Homo sapiens: one gene and its partners. The protein of the gene in region 3 purifies or fractionates together with the protein of the main gene of each other region. This does not show direct contact. Each region holds a gene or a part of one and is shown on either strand. Other genes may lie near its edges.

The links.
Region 1: the proteins of NPR2 (region 3) and MRAP2 purify together in Homo sapiens (co-immunoprecipitation; one large-scale study listed by IntAct). This does not show direct contact.
Region 2: the proteins of NPR2 (region 3) and ALDH3B1 purify together in Homo sapiens (co-immunoprecipitation; one large-scale study listed by IntAct). This does not show direct contact.
Region 4: the proteins of NPR2 (region 3) and EDEM2 purify together in Homo sapiens (co-immunoprecipitation; one large-scale study listed by IntAct). This does not show direct contact.

What each region holds. Positions count from the first base shown.
Region 1 is NC_000006.12:84,057,772-84,061,271, forward strand, and holds part of MRAP2 (melanocortin-2 receptor accessory protein 2), read left to right. Parts: intron 1-3,500. UniProt on the Homo sapiens protein: Modulator of melanocortin receptor 4 (MC4R), a receptor involved in energy homeostasis. Plays a central role in the control of energy homeostasis and body weight regulation by increasing ligand-sensitivity of MC4R and MC4R-mediated generation of cAMP.
Region 2 is NC_000011.10:68,020,327-68,023,826, forward strand, and holds part of ALDH3B1 (aldehyde dehydrogenase family 3 member B1), read left to right. Parts: intron 1-1,158; coding exon 1,159-1,545; intron 1,546-2,268; coding exon 2,269-2,435; intron 2,436-3,500. UniProt on the Homo sapiens protein: Oxidizes medium and long chain saturated and unsaturated fatty aldehydes generated in the plasma membrane into non-toxic fatty acids. May have a protective role against the cytotoxicity induced by lipid peroxidation.
Region 3 is NC_000009.12:35,805,091-35,808,590, forward strand, and holds part of NPR2 (atrial natriuretic peptide receptor 2 isoform 1 precursor), read left to right. Parts: intron 1-420; coding exon 421-580; intron 581-739; coding exon 740-895; intron 896-974; coding exon 975-1,143; intron 1,144-1,301; coding exon 1,302-1,448; intron 1,449-1,932; coding exon 1,933-2,056; intron 2,057-2,239; coding exon 2,240-2,308; intron 2,309-2,694; exon of another isoform or gene 2,695-3,082; coding exon of another isoform or gene 3,083-3,216; intron 3,217-3,418; coding exon 3,419-3,500. Other genes in the region: SPAG8 (sperm-associated antigen 8), read right to left, coding at 3,083-3,216. UniProt on the Homo sapiens protein: Receptor for the C-type natriuretic peptide NPPC/CNP hormone. Has guanylate cyclase activity upon binding of its ligand. May play a role in the regulation of skeletal growth.
Region 4 is NC_000020.11:35,133,837-35,137,336, reverse strand, and holds part of EDEM2 (ER degradation-enhancing alpha-mannosidase-like protein 2 isoform 1 precursor), read left to right. Parts: intron 1-2,387; coding exon 2,388-2,599; intron 2,600-3,500. Other genes in the region: MMP24-AS1-EDEM2 (ER degradation-enhancing alpha-mannosidase-like protein 2), read left to right, coding at 2,388-2,599. UniProt on the Homo sapiens protein: Involved in the endoplasmic reticulum-associated degradation (ERAD) pathway that targets misfolded glycoproteins for degradation in an N-glycan-dependent manner.

The sequences.
Region 1 (3,500 bases), on a different chromosome or scaffold from region 3:
ATAATGTCAGATGGCAATATAAAAGGATAAATAGAGTGGGGGTAAAGGGATGTGGAGTGTGGAGGCGACAGTATAGAATTGCCATCGAAAGCCTTACTGAGAAGGAGAGATTTGATAAAAGACCTGAAGGAAGTGAGAGATTGAGCTATAATATATCTGGGGGAAGAACATCCCAGAAAAGGATCCTTGGCGGGAGTGAACTGGATCATGCAAGGAGGCCAGCGTGGTACCAGGGGAGTGATAAGAGGCAGAACAGCAGGAAACGAAGTCAAAGAGGCTGTGGGGACAAGGACATGGGGGGGCCTTAGAGGTCATGCTAAGGACTTTGTTTGGCCTTTTACTCTGAGAAGTCACTGGAGGGTCTGGAGCAGAGGAGTGCCATCTGGCTTAGGTTTCAACAGATCACTCTGCAACTGCGGAGTGAAAGGCATGAGATTAGAAGCAGAGACCATTCAGGAGGCTTTTGCCATAGTCCAGGCAGCTGATGATGGTGGCTTGGAGCCAGGTAGGGAGAGTGAAGTGGTGAGAAATGCATACATTCTGGATATTTTTAAAAGATGGATCTGGCAAGATTTGTCAATGGATTGGCGGTATGTGTAAGAGAAAGAAGAGTCAAGAATGATTTGAAGATTTATGACCTGAGTAACTGGCAGGATGGAATTGCCTTTAACTGAGAGGGGGAAGAGTATGGGAGAAGGAGGTTTCAGAGAGGAACCCCAGGAGCTCTGTTTTGGACCTGTTAAATTGAGACATCTATCACATATCCAGGAGGACAAGGGAGGAGAGGTGTCGGGGGAAGCCGTAGACTTGAGAGTCATCAGCATGTAAACGGTATGCGTTCAAAGCCAAGAGGCTGGATAAGTGAGTGTAGACAGAAAACTGAAGAGTCCAATGCTGAGCCCTGGGCACGCTTGTGTTTAGAAGTTGGAGGGTTGCATAGCAGCATAGGTGCCTGAGAGGAATGTACAGAAAGTAGGAAGAAAACTGGACAATTGTGGTTTTTTGGACGCCAACTGAAAAAAGGGTTGCAAAGACAGTCTGTGTCAAATGCTGCTATTAGGTCAAGTTAATTGAAGACTGAGATTTGACCATTGGATTTATAATGTAGAAGTTACTGGCAATGATTTGAAAAGCAGTTTTAGTGGAATGCTGGGGGTAAAAGGTTGATGGAATTGGTTCAAGAAAAAATGAGAGGAGAGGAATTGGGGACAGCATGTACAGACAAATCTCTCAAGTGTCTCACTATAAAGGGAAGGAGAGGAATGGGTCATTTATGAAGAGTGTGGCTGGGTGAGACAGGGTGTTCTTAAAGCATCAGAAGCAAAAGCTGATGAGTCAATGAGTGGACAATCACATTTTAGCAGGACCACTCTGGCCGCTGTGTTGAGAAAAGACTAAAGGAATAGCCTCTTAATTTGAGCTATCAGTGGTGGCCAAATTCATGCTTTTTCGTGTGCCACCTTGCAGATACCAGACCCATGCATGGATGGGTCAGCAAGAAGCCAGGTCATTAGGATGAGAAACAGCTAGAGTTTGCAAAGGCTTGGAGTAAGATAGTAGAGACAAGTGTGGGAACATCACTGTTGGCTCTTTGCCAGGAATTCATATCACAGAATTGGCCCTACTGCCTTAGGAACAAAAAGTGGTGTGAGGAAAGTGTCATGAACCTCTCTTTCAAGTGAAGTATTAACCCTTGTTTTTCATATAACCACGAAGTGGAAAGTTCACCATTTATTCTCAGGAGGTGGAGAGGAGGGTGAGTCGGATGGAGTAGTTAACCTAGTCCTACCCTAGATTGGGAAGGAAAAAAATCATGTCAACTTTCAGCTCTCTTGTTCCATTCCATTCATTAAAGGTTAGGTTAAGGGGGGTTACTTTATTCTGACGCATTCCATTTGCAATTCCCCTGGGCAATTGTTCTACCCCTTTACAATAGTAGTCTCTAAGTAGCTCAGTGTCTAGACAGGACAGAGTGTGGTAGCTTGGCGGTGGTGGAAACTCGTTTGGAAGGCTTCTTTTGACTTTCTTAACCATCTAGCCTCATTGGAGCTTTGCTCTGTATAAAGCTTTATTCTGACTTCTTCCCAGAAAAGGATGCTTTTGGGAAGACAACGGGCTCCACTTTTCCCATCTTACTGTAGTGCCTATGCCCATGAAACTTACATGTGAATAAAACTTCAGGAGAGTTTGGATATTTCTGGGATGAGATGGGGATCTCTGATGTTTCTTGTAAGAGGCTCAGGGTGAGAAAATCCCCTGGGGATGGGTCATAGGGCAGAAGATGAGGTTGGGGGAAATTAGTGGAAATAACTTGAGGAAGCTAAATTTTGTTCAAAGGGAAATGTGAATAAGCAGAGCTACTTAAAGCATATTGCCATGAAAAACATAGATGCCGCATTATTAAGGAAATGTTTGGAAATGCTGTTGGATCATGAGGATTCTCAGATTTTACCCACAGCCTGCCTCTCCCCAACTCTGCCGCCACCTGCCTTCTCTGAAGGCTGTAACCCTCCCATGCTTCACATTATTGCTGCTTTTTGATTATCTCCCTGGGGGTACTTAGAAGGGCAGAGGGAAGGGGGACTGGGCTGGGTTGAGGGCACGCTTTCCTCCACCTCTGGGAGTCAGTCCACCATTTGCAGTGTGAAAGCTGTCCTTAGGAGAACACCTTCCTAATACACAGATTTGAAAAATGTCAATCAACATGATTCAATTCTAAACCGAAGACTTAAATATAGCATTGGTGTATAATTTTAGAATTTGCTTTTGCTATGCAGGCAGTTGATAAAGTACAGTGTAGGGAACTGTTATTTATCTGTACAATGTTTCTTCACAGTCCATGCCTAGATAGTTGAGATTTAATTGTTTCATGTTAGTTGTACCTCAGTACATGTGGTGTTTGGTATTTGTCCTTACATCTTTTTTTTTTTTTGAGACGGAGTCTTGCTCTGTCACCCAGGCTGCAGTGCTGTGGCGCGATCTTGGCTCACTGCAAGCTCCACCTGCCGGGTTCACGCCATTCTCCTGCCTCAGCCTCCCGAGTAGCTGGGACTACAGGCGCCTGCCACCACACCCGGCTAATTTTTTTTTTTTTTTTTTTTGTATTTTTAGTAGAGACGGGGTTTCACTGTCTTAGCCAGGATGGTTTTGATCTCCTGACCTCGTGATCTGCCCGCCTCGGCCTCCCAAAGTGCTGGGATTACAGGCGTGAGCCACTGCGCCTGGCCCTTATGTCTTTTTTTATGCCTCATTTCTACTATATTAAAAGGCAAAGTATACAATTTCTATTTCTTTGGCACTTAAGGTTAGACACATTAGTTTTTCAGAGTGCTGAATACACATTGTTAACCTCTAGGCAATAGTATATGTAGGATGAAAGTATGAATTATGCAGAGTAAATTGTTAATCTGATTTCTTCACTTTGGAAAAAGTGCTACATATACATAATTTAATTAGAATAAAGCTTTGCATTTAAACACATTTAATATTTAAGCTCTAAT
Region 2 (3,500 bases), on a different chromosome or scaffold from region 3:
GGGTTCAAGTGATGCTCATGCCTCAGCTTCCCAAGTAGCTGGGGTGACAGGCATGTACCACCACGCCCGGCTAATTTTTTGTATTTTTAGTAAAGACAGGGTCTCACTCTGTTGCTCAGGCTGGTCTCGAACTCTTGGCCTCAACCAGTCCTCCTGCCTTGGTCTCCTAAAGTGCAGGGATCACAGGCATGAGCCACCACACCCGGCTTCGAGTTTTTGAGCTAGGGAGGGGCAGAGGGAGCGAGAGGAAGACAGTGGTGCTGGCAGGCGAGTCTGCGCCTTACAGGTCGAGGCAGTCGTGGGGAAGGGCCTGGCAGGATTGACCTGGCCGCCTCCCAGCAAAGGCAAAGGAGCCCTGGAAGGAACCACAGAGCCCAGGAAGCACTGTGCCAGGATGGGGCAGGGGTGAGAGTAGAGAAGGCACAGTGGCTCCTGCCGGCTTTAATCCTTGACCACAAGGGGGAGAAATGCCAGGGCCATCCCCACAGACGCAGCAGCGTGGTCCCCGAGTCAGGTCTGGAGAGGAGGCCTTGAGGCCCAGACAGGGCTAGGGCAGAGAAGGCTGTGTGCATGCGGAGACTGCTGGGCCCCTGGAGGCCAGCACAGAGGAGAGGTGAGGCCAAGCCAGGCAGGACATGGGGACGCCTGCATCAGCCTGGGACAGTCCACCTCAAGGGTCAGAAAAAAAGGGCTGGGCAGGTGGCAGAACTTCCAGGTTTAGGTTTAGAGAAGAGAGACCTGAATGCCGTAGACAGAGCTGGACTCCATCCTTGGGTGATAAGGGATCCCCGAAGTTTCCAAAGGAGATGGGTGGGGAGGGGTTCCATGCAGCATTTTGCAAAGAGTCCCCTGCAGGGTCAGCCAGGGTCACAAGCAGAGGCGGGAGGAGCCAAGGGGTTTGGCTCAGCAGGGGGACCCTGGGGGCCGATAGCAGCCGTGCACCATTCCCTCCTGAGACTCTGTGCTTAGGGGCTGGTCCTGATGAAGGATGAGCAGGGCCCTGGGCTGCAGGGTGGCAGTGAGGAACAAGGAAAGGCCAGGCGAGGGCTGCTGCCCGCTGACTCCACCACCTCTCCAGGGAGGAGCGGGGCCGTGGGCTGGGCCATCCCGCCTGGTCCAGGTCACTGAACGGCCACTCTGGTTTCCTTCCATGCCCAGGGAGCCCTCGTGTGGGCAAGATTGTTATGACTGCTGCCGCCAAGCACCTGACACCTGTCACCCTGGAGCTGGGGGGCAAGAACCCTTGCTACGTGGACGACAACTGCGACCCCCAGACCGTGGCCAACCGCGTGGCCTGGTTCCGCTACTTCAACGCCGGCCAGACCTGCGTGGCCCCCGACTACGTCCTATGCAGCCCTGAGATGCAGGAGAGGCTGCTGCCTGCCCTGCAGAGCACCATCACCCGTTTCTATGGCGACGACCCCCAGAGCTCCCCAAACCTGGGCCGCATCATCAACCAGAAACAGTTCCAGCGGCTGCGGGCATTGCTGGGCTGCGGCCGTGTGGCCATTGGGGGCCAGAGCGATGAGAGCGATCGCTACATCGGTGAGTCCTGCTGCCCCTACCACAGCCCACCTGGGCCAAGACCCCTCCTCACTGGAGGGCCCAAGGCTGGGCCACAACTCTGGACCCGCGCCTGAAACCTGGCCCCACTGCCAGAGCCCGGCCTTGAGCCACAGCTCCAGTGCCATGATTCCGTCTCTGTGCTTCTAAGTCTGTGGCCCTATGAGGCCAAACTCTGGTCCCTCACCTTGGATTCGCTGAGCTCAGATCCCAGGGCTCCAGGGCTCAGCGTGCTAAGATGAACTCCCATCCCACCACTGGCTATCCTGAAAGGCTGTAACCTCAGATTCTCCGAGCCCACAATCCCCAGGTTCTAAACTCCGAGAGTCCCGTCCTGAGCCCCCAGTCTCCTGGGCCGTACGGCTCAGCAGCTCATGGGACACTGCGGCGCCAACATTCTGGGACGCTGTTGCCTCATGAACTCCAAGGGTTCTAAGATCCCATCACCCCTGACTGTGAGACCAAGGTCGGGGGATTCTCTGTGTCCCACAGGCCCTGAGCAGGCTGGGGAAGCTCTAGAGTCCCTTCTGGGGGGCTGTGGGGAGACTTTCTTCCCTAAACACTCCAAAGCCTGAAGCCTTGGGAAGTCAGACCTTGGGATCCTGGCCTAGAGCCCTGGCCTGTGGCCCTGTCCCCACCTCTACCCCCACCCTGGGGGCGGTCCTGACTGTGGCCCCAGGGCTGAGCTGTCTCTGGTGCCTGCAGCCCCCACGGTGCTGGTGGATGTGCAGGAGATGGAGCCTGTGATGCAGGAGGAGATCTTCGGGCCCATCCTGCCCATCGTGAACGTGCAGAGCTTGGACGAGGCCATCGAGTTCATCAACCGGCGGGAGAAGCCCCTGGCCCTGTACGCCTTCTCCAACAGCAGCCAGGTGGGGGTGCGGCCGGGCTGGGCAGGGTCAGGAGCCCGCAGTGGGCAGCACAAGTGGTGGCAGCAGGGGGGGCACCAAAATCCAGTGGCTTCAGGACTTTGGGATGGTGGACCTCTTGGCTCTGTCTCTGCCCACTCTCCTGGAAGCAGCTGAGCCTCACCCACCCCAACCCTGTCCCCAGTCTGGGCCCCACTCTCCTAGGCCTTCAGTGGGCAGCTTCCTGGGGTATGGGCCTTCTCTAGGGTCCAGTGTTTCCTCTAGGTCAGCCCCTGCCTTTGTCCTTCTTACACATCGGGGCCTGGTGGCCACATGACCCCTCAAGCCTGGCTCTGAAGGCACAGGCAACGTGTCGGGGATGACCCAAAGGTGCAGGTCCAAGAATGAGCCCTGATCCCCTACCCCTGCTTAAGCTGCAGAGGCAGCCTGGGAGGCCCAAGGCCAGAGTCCTCAGATTAAAAAACACCAAGAGGTACCAGCAGTCCCTACCCACCCCGCCCCCTTCCCCGGCCCTCAGCCAGTTCCTCGATTCCCTCCACTTGAACTTTTTTTTTTTTTTTTTTGAGACAGAGTCTCACTCTGTCACCCAGGCTGGAGTGCAGTAGCACAGTCTTGGCTCACTGCAACCTCTGCCTCCCGGGTTCAAGCGATTCTCCTGCCTCAACCTCCTGTGTAGCTGGGATTACAGGCGTGTGCCACTATGCCCGGCTAATTCTTTGTATTTTTAGTAGAGATGGGGTTTTGCCACATTGGTCAGGCTAGTCTTGAACTGCTGACCTCAGGTGATCCACCTGCCTCGGCCTCCCAAAGTGCTGGGATTACAGGGATGAGCCACCGTGCCCGGCCACTTGAACTTTTTTTAAATAAACTTTGTATTGGGAAATACTTTTAGATTTACAGAAAAGTTGCCAAAATGGTACAGAGAGTTCCCATGTACCCCACACCTAATTTCCCCCATTTAATGGTGCTTAGATGGGTCAAAACTAAAAAAGTGATGGCAGGGCTGGGCGCGGTGGCTCACACCTGTAATCTCAGCACTTTGGGAGGCCAAGGTGGGAGGATTGCTTG
Region 3 (3,500 bases):
CAGCTACTCTTGATACCTGGGTCTCAAGTCATGTCTTCCTAATTAGTAGCCAGGTATCTGAGGCCACCATGGGTGTTATATCATTTTGGTCTTCACCCAAGTTCTGTTCTCTTCACTAATCAAGAAGATTGACTGCCCTCTCCAGGGTAGTCATTTGTAGCTCCACTTATCCCTCTTTTTAAGCATTTTCCCTGTCCCTGGTGGCTGGGTGCCTGTGTCCTGCTTATGATACCAGGAACAGATGACTCTTCTGTTCTTCCTGCTTCCTTGGGTGGAAACTGCAAAGGATGCCTTCCAAAATCAGCTTATTATTTTTGTGGACCCAAGATCTGTAGACAGCTAGCCAGTGCCCATCTCATGGAGAGAGGGTATTCTAAGCCAGATATGATCCAATCCCATGACTTGATCTGTACCCTGCAGGGCATGGCCTTTCTCCACAACAGCATTATTTCATCGCATGGGAGTCTCAAGTCCTCCAACTGTGTGGTGGATAGTCGTTTTGTGCTCAAAATCACAGACTATGGCCTGGCCAGCTTCCGATCAACTGCTGAACCTGATGACAGCCATGCCCTCTATGCCAGTGAGGCCCACCCCCACAACCCACTTTTTATATTGCTCCTCTTTCCACCTAGGGATGGTGGGAGAGGGAGGTGGAGTGACAGTAATATAGGGATGAGCCCAGGTGGGCTTGGGGGTGCCCCATTTCGGGGGACCTGGCCAGCCGGTTTCCTCTTTTCAGAGAAGCTGTGGACTGCCCCAGAACTGCTCAGTGGGAACCCCTTGCCAACCACAGGCATGCAGAAGGCTGACGTCTATAGCTTTGGGATCATCCTGCAGGAGATAGCACTTCGCAGTGGTCCTTTCTACTTGGAGGGCCTGGACCTCAGCCCCAAAGGTAAGAGTCAATCCACTACCCACAGCCTCTTCTTCCTGGGGGAACTCTGTTCTTCATCCAAACCTTTGATCACCCTCAGAGATTGTCCAGAAGGTACGAAATGGTCAGCGGCCATATTTCCGGCCAAGCATTGACCGGACCCAACTGAATGAAGAGCTAGTTTTGCTGATGGAGCGATGTTGGGCTCAGGACCCAGCTGAGCGGCCAGACTTTGGACAGATTAAGGGCTTCATTCGGCGCTTTAACAAGTGAGAGGGCATTATGGGGCAGGGGCTTCCCAGGGATAGAAGACTCATTAGTCCTAGTGCATGAAGTGGGGCAGGTGGGACCAGAGGGTGGGTTGGATAGGAAGTCCTGGGAATCTTCAGAATCTTAGAGCAAGTGCCTTATCCTGGCCTCCCTCTAGGGAGGGTGGCACCAGCATATTGGACAACCTCCTGCTGCGCATGGAACAGTATGCCAATAACTTGGAGAAGCTGGTGGAGGAACGCACACAGGCCTATCTGGAGGAAAAACGCAAGGCTGAAGCTCTGCTCTACCAAATCCTACCCCAGTGAGACTTTGTCCCCCTTCCTGTATTTTCTTTTGGGATTCTGCTCTGTTGGGCTCTGCCTCATCAGGCACCTGAGAACTCGCCTCCCCACCCTCAGAACCCTGCTGGCCACAGGGAGCACCCCTGCTTATAGATTATTTGCTGTCATTCTGTCTCCACATCAGCTATGCTGCCTTCTTACTGGCTGCCCATCCCTTCTTCTTAAGACCCTGCTCTACCACACCCTTGCTTCAGCAAGTGTATGTAAAACAGTCCCAACTTGAGACAGCTCCCATGCACAGGGATTCCCCTCAAACCCCCCCGCCACTTGTGTGCCTTACCTTGCATTAGACTGTAATGTCTTCCCAGCCACTTTCCTCCCTCCCACCTGAAAAGCCTAGCTTTCTTGTTACAGCTCATCTCTGCTGCAGCCACATACACTTTCCCTCTCTCTTCCACTCCTGCTCTCTTGGAGTTTGGCTCATACGGCACCCTTGCTTCCTAGTTCAGTGGCAGAGCAGTTAAAACGGGGAGAGACTGTACAGGCTGAGGCCTTTGACAGTGTTACCATCTACTTCAGTGACATTGTTGGCTTCACAGCATTGTCAGCAGAGAGCACCCCCATGCAGGTGAGAGCCATGGGTGAGAGGTGGCGGGTGGGGTTGGGTGGGTAGGGACCTGGGGAAGCCTCATTGATAATAGGAAAGATGAGTTTGTTCTAGAGTTCCCACATCTTTTGATGGCTTGTGGGTTAAGAATTCTTAGAAAATTGGGCACAAGTCTCAGGGCCTCTGCTTTTCTATCCCTTTTAGGTAGTGACACTTCTTAATGACCTGTATACCTGCTTTGATGCCATAATTGACAACTTTGATGTCTACAAGGTGAGAGCTGGGGCCGCTGTTCAATAGAAGACCCTTTAATAGAGACCCGCTTTGAAACTCAGTCTCCCTGAACCCCACACACCTTACCCACCCCATGATCAGTTTTCCCTCCAGGGTACTCAGCATCCTGGTGCTGGAGTGTACTTCGTAGACAGATGTAGCTCCAGCACTATAATTGTACACTCCAGTCGAATTTCTTGTGAATCCTTTGACTTCCCTAATCAGAACCATCATGAGATTTAGCTCCTATCTTCCTGGAGTATAAATACAGCCTATCCAACATTTCTCTCCAGTCCTCTCCAGACATGGAAGAATCATATAGGATGTGGGTCCAGACTGATTTAGTGGGGTGAGGGAAAATATATTTTAAAAAGTAAAACTTTTTGTTGAAGTTATTGAGTTGGATTTATTGTCCTTGGGAGTAAAAATCATCTGGATTTGAATATTGGCTTGTTGCTAACTGTGTGGCCTTAGGTAAGTCACAGAATCTCCCTGAGCCTCAGTTGTTTTATCTGTAAGATGGGAATAATAGATTCGTTGTATGGAAAGTACCTAACATTGTTTGGCATGTGGCAGACTACTATTTAGGGATAACTACTTTATCCCTAAATACTTAGTGTGTATTTCCTAAAAACTTCACTGTGTATTTCCTTAAAACAATGGCATTTATTCTCTTACATAGCTTTGGCACAATTACCAAAATCAAATGCCTGCTTTCCTCCTCTCTGACAGTTTGGGCTGTCAGGTCCATTTCACTGGGCCTGCTTTACCTCCTCACCAGCCTCTGTCCTCTTGAGTTACCGTTTTCTTGCTTCCCATTTCCTGATGGCAGAGCCTATTTGTCCATGTCCTGCTGCAGACAGGGTGTTCATTCATTCCGCAAATGTTTACTGAGTATTCACCAGGTGCTGGGTGGAGAAAGAAGACTTAAAGATTCCCTAGACATCTCCTCTCCCCTAGACTCAGGACCATGGCACTTATTTTCTAGTCAATATTCTGGTCTCCAGCATGTCAGGATGATTAATGATGGTGTCAAGCTTGTCTCCCTCTACTTTTTCCCATCCCCATGGATATAAATAGAGGTGACCTTTTAATCCCCCTCTCAATCAGGTGGAGACGATTGGGGATGCTTACATGGTGGTATCTGGCCTCCCAGGCCGAAATGGTCAACGCCATGCACCAGAAATTGCTC
Region 4 (3,500 bases), on a different chromosome or scaffold from region 3:
AGCAATTCTTTTGCTTCAGCCTCTTGAGTAGCTGGGATTACAGGCGCCTGCCACCATGCCCAGCTAATTTTTGTATTTTTTAGTAGAGATGAAGTTTCGCCACGTTGATCAGGCTGGTCTCAAACTCTTGACCTCAAGTGATCTGGCTGCCTCGGCCTCCCAAAGTGCTGGGATTACAGGCATGAGCCACTGTGTCTGGCCTCTCTCCACAGTTTGGTTTCCCCATCTATCAAATGAGAATCATAATTTCTACTTCCCTACCACATCGGGTTTTGGAGAGGCTAAAATGAGGTCAGGAAGGAGAAACTGCTTAGAGAACGTCCAACACTTTTAAAACGAGAGGGATTTGTTTTGTGGCTAAGCTGTGTCCAGGGCTGCAGGTCAAGCCTCCATGTTTTTGTCTAGTGGGGCAGTAACACCAGGCTCAGTAGCATCAACTGTACACTGTGTTCCCTTCAGGGTGTGGTGGAGGCTCTGAGGACTGTTCACACCCAGACACGTCACACTGTGCTTTCCATCACCTCTTGGCCATCTCACTTATTTATCCCTTTTCTTTCTTAATTTTTTTTTTTTTTTTTTTTTCAGACAGGGTCTTGCTCTGTCGCCCAGGCTGGAGTGCAGTGGCGTGATCATGGCTCACTGCAGCCTCTCGAACTTCTGGGCTCAGTTGATTCTCCCACCTCAGCCTCCTGAGTAGCTGGGATTACAGGCAGATGCCACCATGCATGGCTAAATTTTTTTTTGTAGAGATGGGGTTTCACCATGTTGCCCAGGCTGGTCTTGAACTCCCGGGATCAAGTGATCCATCTGCCTTGGACTCCCAAAGTGTTGGGATTACAGGCGTGAGCCACCACACCCGGCCTCTTTATCCTTCTCACATAGCACTTGCCTCTCCTTTGGGGGAGAGCTGAGGATAGCGGGTGAGCTAGGTTCAGGTCTCACTCATGGCTCATGGCTCATGGCTTGAGCGTCTCCTTGCAGACATTGTGTCCTGTGTGATTCATCCCTGGAGGAAACTCTGGAAACTCTGCCTAGCTGCTCCTCCTTTATAATTTAATTATTTTTGGTCATTGGTCATTTTATAAAAAAAGGTCAAGAAACAGGATTTTGTCACTCCTCTTCTTTTTATTACAGCCTGACTTTTTCTGAAATATTGCTTAGAGCCCTTCCTGGTTGTGACTTGCTCTCCCGCTGGTGCCTGCCAGATTGCAAGTTTCTTGTCTGTGGCAGACACAGTTGCTAGACCCTGTGGTTCTTGGAAGTGTCGACACCTTTGTTCACAGTTTGGTGACGCATAGGCTGCTCTGGAGTTGTTTGACCTTTAGGCCCAGAGAGGAAATCTCTGCCTCTGGCTGGTTGTCCAGTTCTCGTCTTGAACCAGAAGGCACTTGGGTGCCACTTGGGTGGGGCGGGCAGAGAACTGGACTGGGGCTGGGGTGGGCACAGGGGAGGCGTTCCCATCCCAGCTCTGTTTGACTCTCTCTGTGTGACCTGTGGCTGAATTACTTCTTTACAGGCATGGTTTTCCCTACCTATAAATCGAGGGTCATACTATATCCGTGGTTTAGTGGTTTATATCCTATTTTGCTTCCCTTTAAAAATAATTTAGCCCCTATACTCTTTATTTAAAGCAGAGATCTTTATTTAAAGTCTATGAATGGCTTTGTTTATTATTATTATTATTTTGAGACAGGGTCTCGCTCTGTCACCCAGGCTGGAGTGCAGTGGTGCAATCTCAGCTCACTGCAGCCCACGCCTCTTGGGTTCAAACGATTCTCGTGCCTCAGTCTCCCAGATAGCCAGAATTACAGGCGTGCACCACCACGCTTGCCTAATTTTTGTATTTTTAGTAGAAATAGGGTTTCACCATGTTGGCCAGGCTGGTCTCGAACTCCTGGCCTCAAGTGATCTGCCTGCCTTGGCCACCCAGAGTGCTGGGATTATAGGCGTGAGCCAAAAGTCTATGAATGGCTTTGAACGGGGCTTACTCTTGTCATTGTGCCACAAGCCCCACCACTTTCTGTGGCTTAAACCCTGCCTGCATCACAATAAGTTACCTGCCTGGGCTTTGAAGGCGTAGTGTAAAATAAATAAAAATAGGTAAAGCTCTCTAGCTAAAGCGAGTGTGTGTGGAGCACAGCCTGCTCCCTGCCCCCTCATGATGAGCAGGAACCCAAGGTTATGCAGAGCAGTGTTTGACAGCATCTGGGCTGGGTGGCTGCTCAGGGCCCTCCAGTTATGACATTTATCTTTCTCTGGCTCAGACTCTAGCAGGATACCCAGGAGAAAGAGGGAAGTGCTGGCTAAGGTCCCAGGCTTTGGGCGTGTATCAGAACTATCCCTATCCCCCTGCTCCTGTCCGGGATCATAATTTGTCGATTGTTCAGCCTTTCAGACCCCCACTGGCATGCCATATGGAACAGTGAACTTACTTCATGGCGTGAACCCAGGAGAGACCCCTGTCACCTGTACGGCAGGGATTGGGACCTTCATTGTTGAATTTGCCACCCTGAGCAGCCTCACTGGTGACCCGGTGTTCGAAGATGTGGCCAGAGTGGCTTTGATGCGCCTCTGGGAGAGCCGGTCAGATATCGGGCTGGTAGGTTCGCTGCTGCCCTTCCTGTTTGAGTCCCTGCTTACGAGGCCCAGGGCTCTGAGCAATAAGTTGCAGTCAAGCCAAGGAAAACTTAGGGTGACCTTGGGAGTGGTCCAGGATTTGGGCTCAGGACACCAAAAATAGACCAAGCCTCCAATTCAAGTTTGGCTTGGAGTGGGGAGGAGAGTGGGAAAGCACGTTTCTGGCAGGCAGCAGGGGCTGCATTCAGCTTTGACCAGTTGAGATTCTCTGATTTCTAGGAAGAGGGTCGTATGTTTCATGCCCCTGACTCACTTGACGGCTTCAGATCATCAGCTCGTCCGGCCTTCATTTTTAGCGTCTATCTGTATTTGCTGTGTTTCTTAGGACACCGGTTCTGAGAGATACTGAGTGGCAGTTGCATGAAAAAATGAGTCTTGGCCAATTAAGTTAGGGGAATATTAGATATAATATCCCCCCCTTTTTTGGAGAGTCAGAATGCACATGAGCAGAATAAAAATCCTCTAGTAAAGAAATCTATTCAACTTTGTTTAATTTAACATTTCCCAAACTTATTTAACACCAGAGCTTCCCTTTATCTTCCAGTACTATTAACCCATGGAAATTGAACACACTTTGGACCAGATGATCTCTAAGGTCAGTTTCAGCTTCTAAATGGGATAATCAATAAGATTAACAGTAATTGAGCCAAAGCCATCCAGGACATAACACTGGATTTAGTCAGAACTGGATTCAAGCCCTGGCCTTGCTACATCGAAACTGTGTGACCCTGAGCAAGTCACTCAACCTCTCTGGTCCTCAGTTACTTCAGCAGTAACGTTAATATATTAATACCAACTTTGCTGAGTCACTCTGACTTAGGAAGACTGCATTTAGGTCTAGGCACATTTTATGCAGTCTGGTG